2 separate regions of the Homo sapiens genome follow, and region 2 is linked to region 1. The links come from fine-mapping of genetic effects on gene expression. A gene starts in region 1. The other region holds a variant in brackets. All regions are shown on one strand. Distances are from middle to middle. Region 1 holds the start of KCNK9 (potassium two pore domain channel subfamily K member 9). Region 2 overlaps KCNK9 (potassium two pore domain channel subfamily K member 9).

Evidence for each region. PIP is the estimated chance that this variant, and not a neighbour inherited with it, causes the effect.
Region 2: its variant is the best candidate, but not a certain one, in a credible set for the expression of KCNK9 in cerebellum (GTEx, PIP 0.69).

Annotation. Positions count from the first base shown.
Region 1 is chr8:139,700,090-139,705,453 of GRCh38, forward strand. KCNK9 (potassium two pore domain channel subfamily K member 9) reads right to left here and starts at 3,034. Exons shown (of 2, transcript NM_001282534.2): 1 at 2,621-3,034. The coding sequence starts at 2,903. RefSeq lists a silencer at 2,757-3,051.
Region 2 is chr8:139,620,146-139,625,509 of GRCh38, forward strand. The region is part of intron 1 of KCNK9 (potassium two pore domain channel subfamily K member 9); the gene reads right to left. Among named protein-coding and RNA genes, the nearest start is that of KCNK9, 80 kb to the right of the region's middle. The variant G/C (reference allele first, on the strand shown) is at 3,300.

The DNA of each region.
Region 1 (5,364 bases):
AAAACAAACAGAATTAACTGGAAAGGTGCTTTGTTTCCTGTAAATTTGAACTCTTGTGCTAAACAGCTTCTTAGGGCAGAGAGCGGAGGCTCGATCAGGCTTCGTCCAAGAGCGTGGATTCCGTTCCTACTAAGTGCCGGCCACACTGTGCCTGGCAGCTGCAGCCCGCGGGATCTCAGCTGGACCTTAAAAGTCAGCCTGTCAGGTAGTTATTGTGAGACATCTCTTCTGCAGGTGGGGAAACTGAGGTCAGGAGTTGGGAAATGACCTCTCTCTGGTCTTTACACTATGGCCGAATTCAGATTCCAAGCCAGGTCTGTGGGTTCCAAGTTGAACATCTTTCCACAACAGGACAGCTGTGTTAGTGTTAGAGCTGTCTTTTATTCACATACACATACACACACACACACACACACACACGCGCGCGCGCGCACACACACACACACACACGCGCGCACACACACACACACACACATTTTTTTCCCAACCTTTCTTTCCAGAAAATCAGTGGAAAGCCCAAAGAAGGAAGCGAGGAAAATCAGCGAATTCCTCAGATGGCCTCTGGTCCCTTATTCATACAAGTCCCACAGCCCCTGAGGCGAAGCCGACACCCTCCATTTAGCTACACTTCCCTTGACAGCTTCTCTTTGGAGTTTTAACCGTTACAGGCATACACCCAGAGCTACCAATCAGAATCAACCATGGAAACACACCTCAGTAAGAACTTCATCAGTCTCCACAATGCATTTCTTAAGGAAAACTGGCACATTTCAGAGTTTGCTTTTAACACCAATCCTCTCCTCGATGTTGTCGCTCAACTCTCGGGATCAGCCAAGCATTTTATGTGCCTGTTTTACTACTGGAAGCCAGCATGCTAGCCAAATTCACCTGTCTTCCATCTTCAACCCTAAAGGCATGTTTAAGGGCCTTGGGGCTTTCTCCTTTCCCCAGGGGTGGCCAGTTTCAGAGGCATATTTCTTACTCTCCAGCTCTCCAGCAAACAGGCCCCTGTCTCCCAGAATCACTGCCCTGTGCATCTGCGTGCCACTGCCACAGTTTAAAGCCAGAGAAAATGGCAATGACTGGCCCTCTCAGAAGCTGGAAACACAGTGTGGGAAGGGAAGGAGTCATCTGTGTTTGGGGTGCTGGGCAAAGGGCGTGGGGCAAGCAAGAGCCAAGCTGATTATGTAGATAACAGAAGGACAATTTCCTTCACAAACAGAAAAACCTGCACCAATGAATTAAACATTTAAAACAAGATGACTCTCTAAAAAGTATTTTCAACCAAGAAGGAAAGACAGGCCGTCCTGTGCTGGCGCTTCCTGTTGCATATGGCACTGAGAAATCCTTTTTTTTTCAGTATGCAGAGATTTCCAGACAAAGAAAAATATCAAGAGGGAAATTAGAGGAGGAGGTCCAGAGAAGCGAGACAGGAGGAGCTGGGAAGAAGGGAGGGGGGAAGGAGGAGGTCCCTGCCCAGGGCACAGGGGTGTGAAGCCCTGAGGGGTGCAGGAAACAGACCACCCCCACTAACACACTGGCCTTGGCAAGTCCAAGGAGATGGCCCTAGAGAGGCAGCCTGCCTCACTGGGGCAAGTGAACCACAGAGACACCACCCTGCCTCCTGCCATGCAGGGTATCCACCACGTCCACCCGAATGAAGGTACCTGCCCCAGCTCCCACAGGTCTCCAAGTATAACGTCCGGGAGTCCTCCCAGCCCCCAGCCTTAGAGGGGACACTGCCCTCGGGACCGACCAGAGACCCTGCTCTGTGAATAGCGCCCTTGGCAGTGGGGCTGGCGGGCATCCCTGCAGTTTACCAGCTGGACCCCCTCTCGTGACTGGGGCTCAAGTTCCCTGGTTTCTGGGCAATGTCTAGACTGGCCTTTCCCAGTGTCACAGCCTAGGGAGTGGGCAGGTTCTGCCCTGCCCCCACTCTCCACCTCTACTGAGAGCAATTGAGGGGCTGCCACCCCCAACGCAAGCACCAGAGAGCAAACTCTCTCCTCCCAGGGGCCTGGGAAGTCCAAGCTCCAGAACTGGAACTCAGGGGAAAAAAGGAGCCGGGCGGGGGGAAGAGAGATGAAATCTGAGCTCAGAGAAGCCTGGAGCGGGGCCCAGGGGCTACGGAGGGTCAGTGCCTCTCACGCCCCAGGCGCACTCCCCTGCCACCTGAGTCCCTCTAGGAGCCATGGGTGCCAGGCCAGCCCTCTCCAACTCCCAGAGAGGTAGTAAGTGTAAGGCTCAGAGCCCCGCGCAGCCCAGCCCGCGCCGGGGCGGTGGGTGGGTGGGTGTCTGCTATGGGATTATTCTTAGCGCTCCACTCTCTTCGCAAAAGTGGCGCCTCCGCCCTCCCGGCTCAGGCACACTCGCTCGGGGCTCGCACGCCCGGCCCAGACACCAGCGCGGTGGAGAGCACCGGGTGGGGTCCCCGAAGGGTGAGGCTCGGAGGCGCCGCGGAGGGGGGGCTCCCTAGAGAGGAGGGGGCGCTGCGGGAAGGCCCCCAAGGGAGGCTGCGTTTAACCCTCGACGCCCTGCACCCAGCCCGGCGCGGCGCGCTCAGCCGCCTCCCCGGACTCCTCCCGGGGCGCGGGAGCCCAGCGGCGCGCCCAGCCCTTACCTATGGTGGTGATGACCGTGATCGCAAAGTAGAAGGAGCCGGCGAATTTCCACTGGACGCCGGCGCGGTGCGGTTCCGACTGCAGGATCACCAGCTCCAGCTGCCGGTAGTCCTCGCTGCTGATGTTGTACTTCCCCTTGATCCGGATCTCCTCGGCTTTGAGTTTCTCCTCCTCGCGCATCTCGTGGTCCGACTCGAGGGCGTCGAACACGGCGGCGCCCACCAGCAGGTAGGTGAAGGTGCAGACGATGAGGGACAGAGTCCGCACGTTCTGCCTCTTCATGGCCGCCAGCAAGGAGCCGGCGCGGGGGGCATGTCCCGCAGGCTCACAGCCGCGCGCGTCCCACTGCAGCGCCCGGCGGCCGCCGCCGCCTCCTCCTCCGCCGCCGCCGCCGCCGCCTCCAAGTTGTAAGCGGCGGCGGCAGCAGCAGCAGCAGCAGCGGGGAGGCGGGGGGCGGGGAGGCTGGGGGGGGCCCCCTCCGCTGGGGCCGCCACAGCCACCGCCACCGCGAGGCGGCTGGCGGGGCAGGGGCGGCGCGGGCCCGGGCTCAGCCGAGAAGGCGGACAGGCACAGGAGGCTGCTCGAGCGCCGGGGCCAGGCGTCCGGGAACCCCGACACCCTGCGCCAGACCCGGCCGAAGCAGCCCGCCCCACTGCGCAGGGCCATGCAGGGCGGCCCCGCTGGGTACCGCGCGGGCCTTGCTGCCCTCCGCACCCCGCCCCCCGCTCCCGCGGGAAACGCAGGGACGGGAACCGGAGCCAGAAAGCGGCCGGAGGGCGGCCGCGGGGCCCGGTACCCCTGTGGGTCCAGCTCGCGGGTGGCGGTGCCCAGCAAGGAGCCTGCAGGTCCGCGCGCCCAGCGGAACCTGCTTCCCCTTTTACCCCTCCTCGCCCCCTCTCGGTGGTGGGGAGGAAAAGTTTGCGAAGTGGCGGTGTCTCTGGAGTCCCCTGCAAGCGGGGAGGGGGCCGAGCAGGTGCAGCGGGAGGGGCAGCCCGCTCCCCAAAGGTCCGCGCGCCCAGCGCCCACCCGGGCGCGCGGGTGCGCAGCGGGGTCCCCGCCGGGCGTCGGCCGGTGCGCGAAGTTTGCTCGGCTCAACCCCCAAGGCGCGGGAGCGGGGCGCGGCCCCAGGACGGCAGGGACCGCGATGGAGCGGCTTCGGGGGCGGCCGGGGGACGGCGCGGTGGCGGTCGGCCAGCCCGCTCCTCCGGGGGCGGCGGGCGCGGCGGCGGCGGCGGGAGGGGTCCCGCGGGCCTCGCGGAGCAGCGGGGCGGACGCGGGCGCATGAGCCGCGCGGGGGTCGGGGCCCTCCGGCGTCCGGGCGTCCCGGGAGGCGGCCGCCGCGCTGGTCTGCCCCGGGCGCTACGTGCGTGCGCGCCGTTGGGAGCCCGAATGTGTGTGTGCGCGTGTGTATGTGCGTGTGTGTGTGTGTGTGTGTGTGCGCTTGGCAGCCCCGCTCCGGCGGGAGGGCCTCGGGGAGCGGGGGCCGGGCTACGCCGAGGCCGGGCCTCCCTCCCTCCCTCCCTCCCGCAGCCTCCAGGGCGCGCCACCTCCCGCCTGGTCCCCAGCCAGCTGGCGAGGCTGCTGTGGCAGCTCCCGCTGCAGACCCAGCGCGGCGCAGGGCGCACGCGGAGGGAGCCCGGGAGGGGCGGCCTGAGCCGCCAGGGAGGGGGCGGGGGCGGAGCCGCCGGCGGGTTTTGGCGGGGGATGGGAGGATAAACGCGGCTTCTTGGGTCCTTCTAGCCCCGCTCCCCAAGAGCGCAAGCAGCCCTGGCGGGTGGAGAGTTTGAGGGACTCGGGGTTGGAGGAGGAAAACGGGATTCAGCCAGAGATGGCAGGCTGACAGCTTCAGGCAGATTGGGCAGAGAGTGGGGAGCAGAAGGGGAGGGGGCCATGGGCACACAGGAGAGCGGCAGCAGCGGTTCACGAAGTCTTCCCCACCCCCCACCCCCCACCTAGCCACCCGGCGCGGGAGCGTGTCATTGGCCAGGGACATGGCCTCGTGGAGTGGTGGGGTCCCGAGGGCTGCCTCGGCCCCCTCGCCTCCCAGCGGCACAGCCCGCTTGGGCCAGCACCTGCAGACCCGAGTCGTTTCCCTGGAGAGCGCTAAGGACAGCATGGGCCGCCACTTTTGGAGTCAGGACAGCGGGGAAAGACATCGCAATCCCCCGACCCAGTAACCTCTCTGTTGCTTTACTGAAGGAAAAAAAAAAAATACACACACACACACACACACACACACACACACACACACACACACATATATATATATATATATATATATATAATCACTCTTTGATATATATAATCACTCTTTGGTTCCCCACAGCTGGGCGCAAGGTGCGCCGTGGATGCAGCCCTGAGCCACGCGATAGCCCCCTCGAGACCACCTGGGGTAGGAACACGAGGCTCGGGCTGGGGCGCACCTATTCCCTGCTTCCAGATGAGCCCTCTCCAGGCTTTATCTCCTTCCCATTTTGGCCTCCTTTACCTCCTCCCCCTCCCCGCCCTCTCCCTTTAGGCTATCGAGGGGCTTTTCCTTGACCTTCGGCTTCCTGAATCCCGCCTGGAGCCCTGGAGCTCCAAAAGGACAGACCCAAGCCTCAGAGACCCCTGGGCTCCTCTTCCTCTCCTGACCCCAGCCAAGGAAGGGATGGAGATGGGAAAGAGTTGCCTGGCGGCAGGCTAGCAGCTGGCCAAGGGGTGGCTGGGGAATCAGACCTAACCCTCGGGCAGCTCGCGGGCT
Region 2 (5,364 bases), 80 kb before region 1:
AATATGGCAGAAGGAACAAGAGACTCAGTAGGTTCAAACTGTGGGACTAACACTACCCAGAATAAAAACCTGGATCATGGACAGTGTTTTTTTGGACAGAAATTTTGAAGGATGTACCTGGTCTTCCAACATCTAAAATCCTGCCCATCAAGATAGATTTCCCTGATGGGACCCTGTCACATGTTCATGGTCACTTAGCTTGCTGCTTTACCTTGGGTTCCATAAGTTTTTTCAAACCCATGTGTCTTTATCTGTTACATGGCATAATTGTTCTTAGGTGGCGTTGTATGGATCCGCCGAGATCAGACAGCTCCGAGCCAAGAGTCTGATACACAGTAGGGACCTACCAGACCCCAGGATCCTCTGCCGCTCCTTCCTGCATGAAGCTGCCTCTGACGGCTCTAGCTCACACTTCTCCATCAGGGCTTCATTGCCTGTGGCTCAGTCTGTCTGTCTCCGGTGGTGTGAATATGTGCCATAACCTACCTACCCCCATGGGCCAAACTCTCACTTGAAAAATGACATCACATGTTTGCCTCCAGAAGGCCTTCCCCCCATCCTCTCTGGCCCTCAATCCCAGCTAGCGCTGAGCTCTGACACCCCTCTGAAACCCCTTAGTCCTTATGAAAGAAGAGATGATATGACAAAGTTAGGCCAGAAAGGACAGGGTGGGGAAACAGAGAAGCTGAAATAATAGATATATCAATTGAAATTATCCAATCTGAAGAGCAGAGAGGAATAAAGAAGATTGAAAATAAAGCCTGGGGGGAGCTGTAGGGCAATATCAAAAGGTGTCCCAGAAGGAAAGAGAATCAGACAAAAAGAAGAAATAATGGCCAAAAGTAGCCAAATTTAGGTTGGGTGCAGTGCTTCACACCTGTAATCCCAGCACTTTGGGAGGCCAAGGCAGATGGATCACTTGAGGCCAGGAGTTTGAGACCAGCCTGGCCAACATGGTGAAACCCCATCTCTACTAATTTTGTAAAAATACAAAAATTAGCCAGGTGTGGTGGCACACACCTGTAGCCCTAACTACACAGGAGGCTGAGGCAGGAGAATCACTTGAACCCAGGTGGTGGAGGTTGCAATGAGCCATGATTGTGCCACTGCACTCCAACCTGGGTGACAGAGCGAGACTCCATCTCAAAAAAAAAAAAAAAATAGCCAAATTTGATGAAAGACACAAACTTATAGATTCAAGAAATTCAGTGAACCCCAGGCAGGACAAATACAAAGAAAACCACACGCCAGAGTCAAGCTGCTTAAAGTCAGAGAAGATAATGAAAGTAGCCAGAGAGAAATAATATACCACATACAGGGGAACAATAATATAATATTGCTTACATCTAAACATAAGCAACAGAGGCCAGGAAGCAGTGGAAGCACGGCTGTAAAGAACTAAGACTGCTCACTGAAAATTCCATATCCAGAGAAATTATCCTTCAAGAAAGGCAAAACAAAGACATTTTCAAATGAAGTAAAACTATAAGAGAGTTCATTACCAGCATATCTACACAATAAGATTACTGAAGGCTGCTCTGTCTGGGGAGAAGGACACCATATGGAAACTTAAGTCTTCAGGAAAGAAGGCACATCTTGGCAAACAAGTAGGGTAAATATAAAAGATGCAGGGGTGGGAATCCTACTATATCTCCATATAGCTCACCTGTAGAGCTGATACAAAAAAAGCCAGCTGGAATGCTGGAGAATAACAGGAGGTTGTTGGAAACTTCTTATTAAGTGGTAATGTTCCACATGTGATATATTTACTGGAAGAAATCACCATGGCATTTTCTGGGTCAAAAACTGCATACCAGGTGCCAGGGTCCCCCACCCTGACTTCTGTTCCTGCTAGTAAAAATAAGCAGTTTGCCTTCACGGGGCTTAGACAGCAGTACACTGGTATGTCCTGTCTCAGGCTTATGTCAATTCTCCTGCCGTCTTACTACAGCATGAAAGAACTTGATCATTGACACACCATAGTGTTTCTCACTGGTCCACTGCATCGAGGACATCCCTTGGTAAGACACGTGCATGAGAGAGTATGGGAGATGAACAGCGCTGAGGTTCAGGGGTCTTCCCCATTAACACATTTCCTGTGGTCCCAGTGGTCTGGGGAACAGGACCATTCCCTCTCAAGTGAGAGACAAGTTTCGGGACTCCCAAGGCCTTCTAGGAAAAAGAAGGTGGTACAGGGTATCCTCCACTGTCCTATTTAGGCGTTCCCAGCCACACCCTGCTCTCTACCCTGGGAGCTACATCAAGGGTCCCTTTGCCCTCTGGTTTCCAGTTGGGTCCATCCAATGGACAGCCCCAGTAGATCAGAGGAAGGGAAGAGGAGGGCGACTTCGGCAACTAGCCGCATCTGTCAGCGGGCTTACAGCAGCTACTCTCTACAAGTTCCAGGAACTGCACCCTTGGCATGTTAATAGCTCTCCACTGGTGCTCCACATACCCCTCATTGCTTCCCCCCAAACCTGCCTACGTGTTCGAGAAGAATTTATAAATAGCCCATTTATTAATCATTCAGTGTGAGAGTGCTATTTCCTGCAGAGACCCTGTTACACTATCTGTTTTCCCCTGGTCTGCTTAACAAATGTGCTTATGATAGAACACTGCAGGTACTGTGTACAAACAGGCCTGCGAATATTAAGTCCACATGTCAGATGTTCCCAAATACCTGTACAGAACACACATACATGGCATCTATGAAGACTTCAGAGTACACACAGTGTACACTTGGAACCTAATGTGTAGAATAACGGCACATGTGACATAGTAGCACACTATATACAGATAGATTAGACCAAGAGGCACATATAACTACAGCGCACCCATATTCACCAGCAAATATTGTCTATGCAGTGTGTGCGCCTGTAGAACACACATGACACAGGCTGTGTATGTGCCACACCTATGTATATGCTGCAGACTGCACGTTTTAGTAGTACACACCATGTCTACAGATTGTATGTAGAAGATACAATAAAGAACATAGAAAATGCATGTATGCTGGACACGTGACACAAGATGGCCTCTAAGCTCTTCCCAAGAGGAGAATGAGGTACAAATCTAATACATTCCCCCAGCACCTGTGTGACAGCTCAAGTCCTGAGAAACCATTTTTTTCCCATCTGCAAATGAACATATCCCAGCATCACCCGCCCAGGGGTCAGAAGATATATTCATTCATCTACTCATACATTACCCATTCAGATATCTCCATTGACTGTGCCCTGGGACCTGCTCTTGGCACAGGGGATTCCACAAACACTTCTTTCCTGGAAATCTCCCAAGGG[G/C]CTCCAGCCAGCCTGTACCAGGAGCCCTGCCCAGTGCCCAACACGAGCAGGTGCGGATAGAGGCTGGGGCATGGATGTGGAAAGGCCACAGGTGACCCCTAGGCTGTCTGTTCCTGGTTACCTCCTACCCCACCTGTGAGCTCAGGAACCACACATGCCCAGGTGGATTTTCCCTCTAGGACTCCAGGCTCCTACAATACCCTACCGCCCCCTCCCCCTACCCTCCAGGCACTACAGGGTGGTGACCTTCTCCATCTCTGAGGACCACAGAGGTGGCAGAATCTCAGAAGTCCCACCCACCACTGGCCACGCTTCCCTCATCATAAAGGGGTCACTTATCCCTTTGGCAATGAGACTTCTGAAATGGATCTGCACAAAATTCAGGAGGGACACACAGGGCACTAAAGGTAGAGATAATGAAACCAGGACTCCCAGAGGGGCGCCTCCGACTGCGGGTGAGATCTAGCCAAGCAGCCTCAGTCACTCGAACCACTTCACAGACGTGTAAGATGAGGCTGCAGGAGGGTTGCCAACCCACAACCGCCCCGCAAGAGGCCACATCATCCTTACCTAACCCGATGCCTGGCACCCCCTACAGGCACCCAGCCAACAGCAGGGCCCTAAGCCAGAGCCCCACCAACTGAGGAATGCAAAGACCACACACAGGGTACAAAGCCCCTGCACACAAGGGACGCAGCCAGCCCACGCTGCTCATCTCCAGAGCTTCACCGCCTGTTTTGCTGACATCTAGGGGGATGCTGAGTTAGACACGCCTGCCTTTGGGACCTGGTACCGGTCCAGATGGTCACACGGAGTCAGGCCTCTGGGTGTGAGGTTAACCATAGTGGTGCTGGTGACAGACAGCACTGACAGCCTGAAATTTGGTTTCCAGCACTGCTCACACAGCAGCAGCATCCCCAACACCATCCTTCCCAAGATTCCAGGATGCCGGCATGTTCAGGGACCCTGGAGGGAGCTTACAGTCGGTTCCAGTTGAGTGGCTGTCCCAGCTTTCTCAGCCCGGCTGGCCCCTGCATCACTCAGTGCTTTAGGCTCCAGGGTCCTGCTCTGCCCACCCACCTGCCCTCCCCTGGCCTGCTCAGCTTTGCCAACAGGTGGTAGTGCCCAGGACCAGGCAGGGTGGGTAGATGTGAGTGGTGAAGGAGATCCAGGAAAACCCCCAGCTCAGCCCAGCCCCATGTCCCAGCACATGGAACCAACCCCTCGAGTGGCAGCCCCACCCAGGGGTCTGGAGCATCCTAGGTCACCTGCTAAGTGAAGCCAGCCCTAGAAGAGAACCTCCAGTTCACCCGGCCCACCTCCACAGTCAGAGGCAACTGACACCCGGGGGCCGGTGATGCCCAACTCGACAGGGCAGGCCGGTGACGGGGTTCCTGCCCTACAGATCTGGAAAGGGGACAGTCATTGTAAAAATGTCAAAGCCCACTTGGAAAAGCTGACTCTGTCCTGGGCACTGTGACTCCTGAGCAGACTCTGCGCTGTGCACTATGACTCCTGAGCACCCTGGGAGGACCCCTCTACTTCCTCATCTGTGAAATGGGGCAGATGATGTGCATCAGAGCACAATGAGAATCAGCCCCCTCACCTGGCCCCTCCCAGAACTGGCCAAATTCATGGGTCCCCTCACCGAGAGCTGGGCCATGCAGCCTCTGAGCCGAGCCCCACCTCAGGCTGGCGTGCAGCCCTTGGGGGTCAGACCTTCCAGCCCCCAAGTGCCCATGTGGATCTGTAGCCAAGGACGTCTGGGCCCAAGGGAACTGACAGCCTGCCTGCTTCCACAGGGCCTTCTTAGCCGGTTACTAGGTGCCTCTCCCAGCCCCGGACCCTGGTGGAAGGCTGGGGGCTCCCAGGACAGCACCCACAGGCTGTACTCCTCACCTATCCAGACCCTGACTGGCCCTGCTGGGTAGTCACAGCCTGGGTCACCTTGGGCCAGACCGTGAGCTCCCGAGGAGAGCAGAGCCCACTCCTGACTCAGCTGTGCAGATCCCAGAGCCCAGCATGGAGGAGAAGGCAGCACATGGTATCTCCTTGCTGTGCAAGT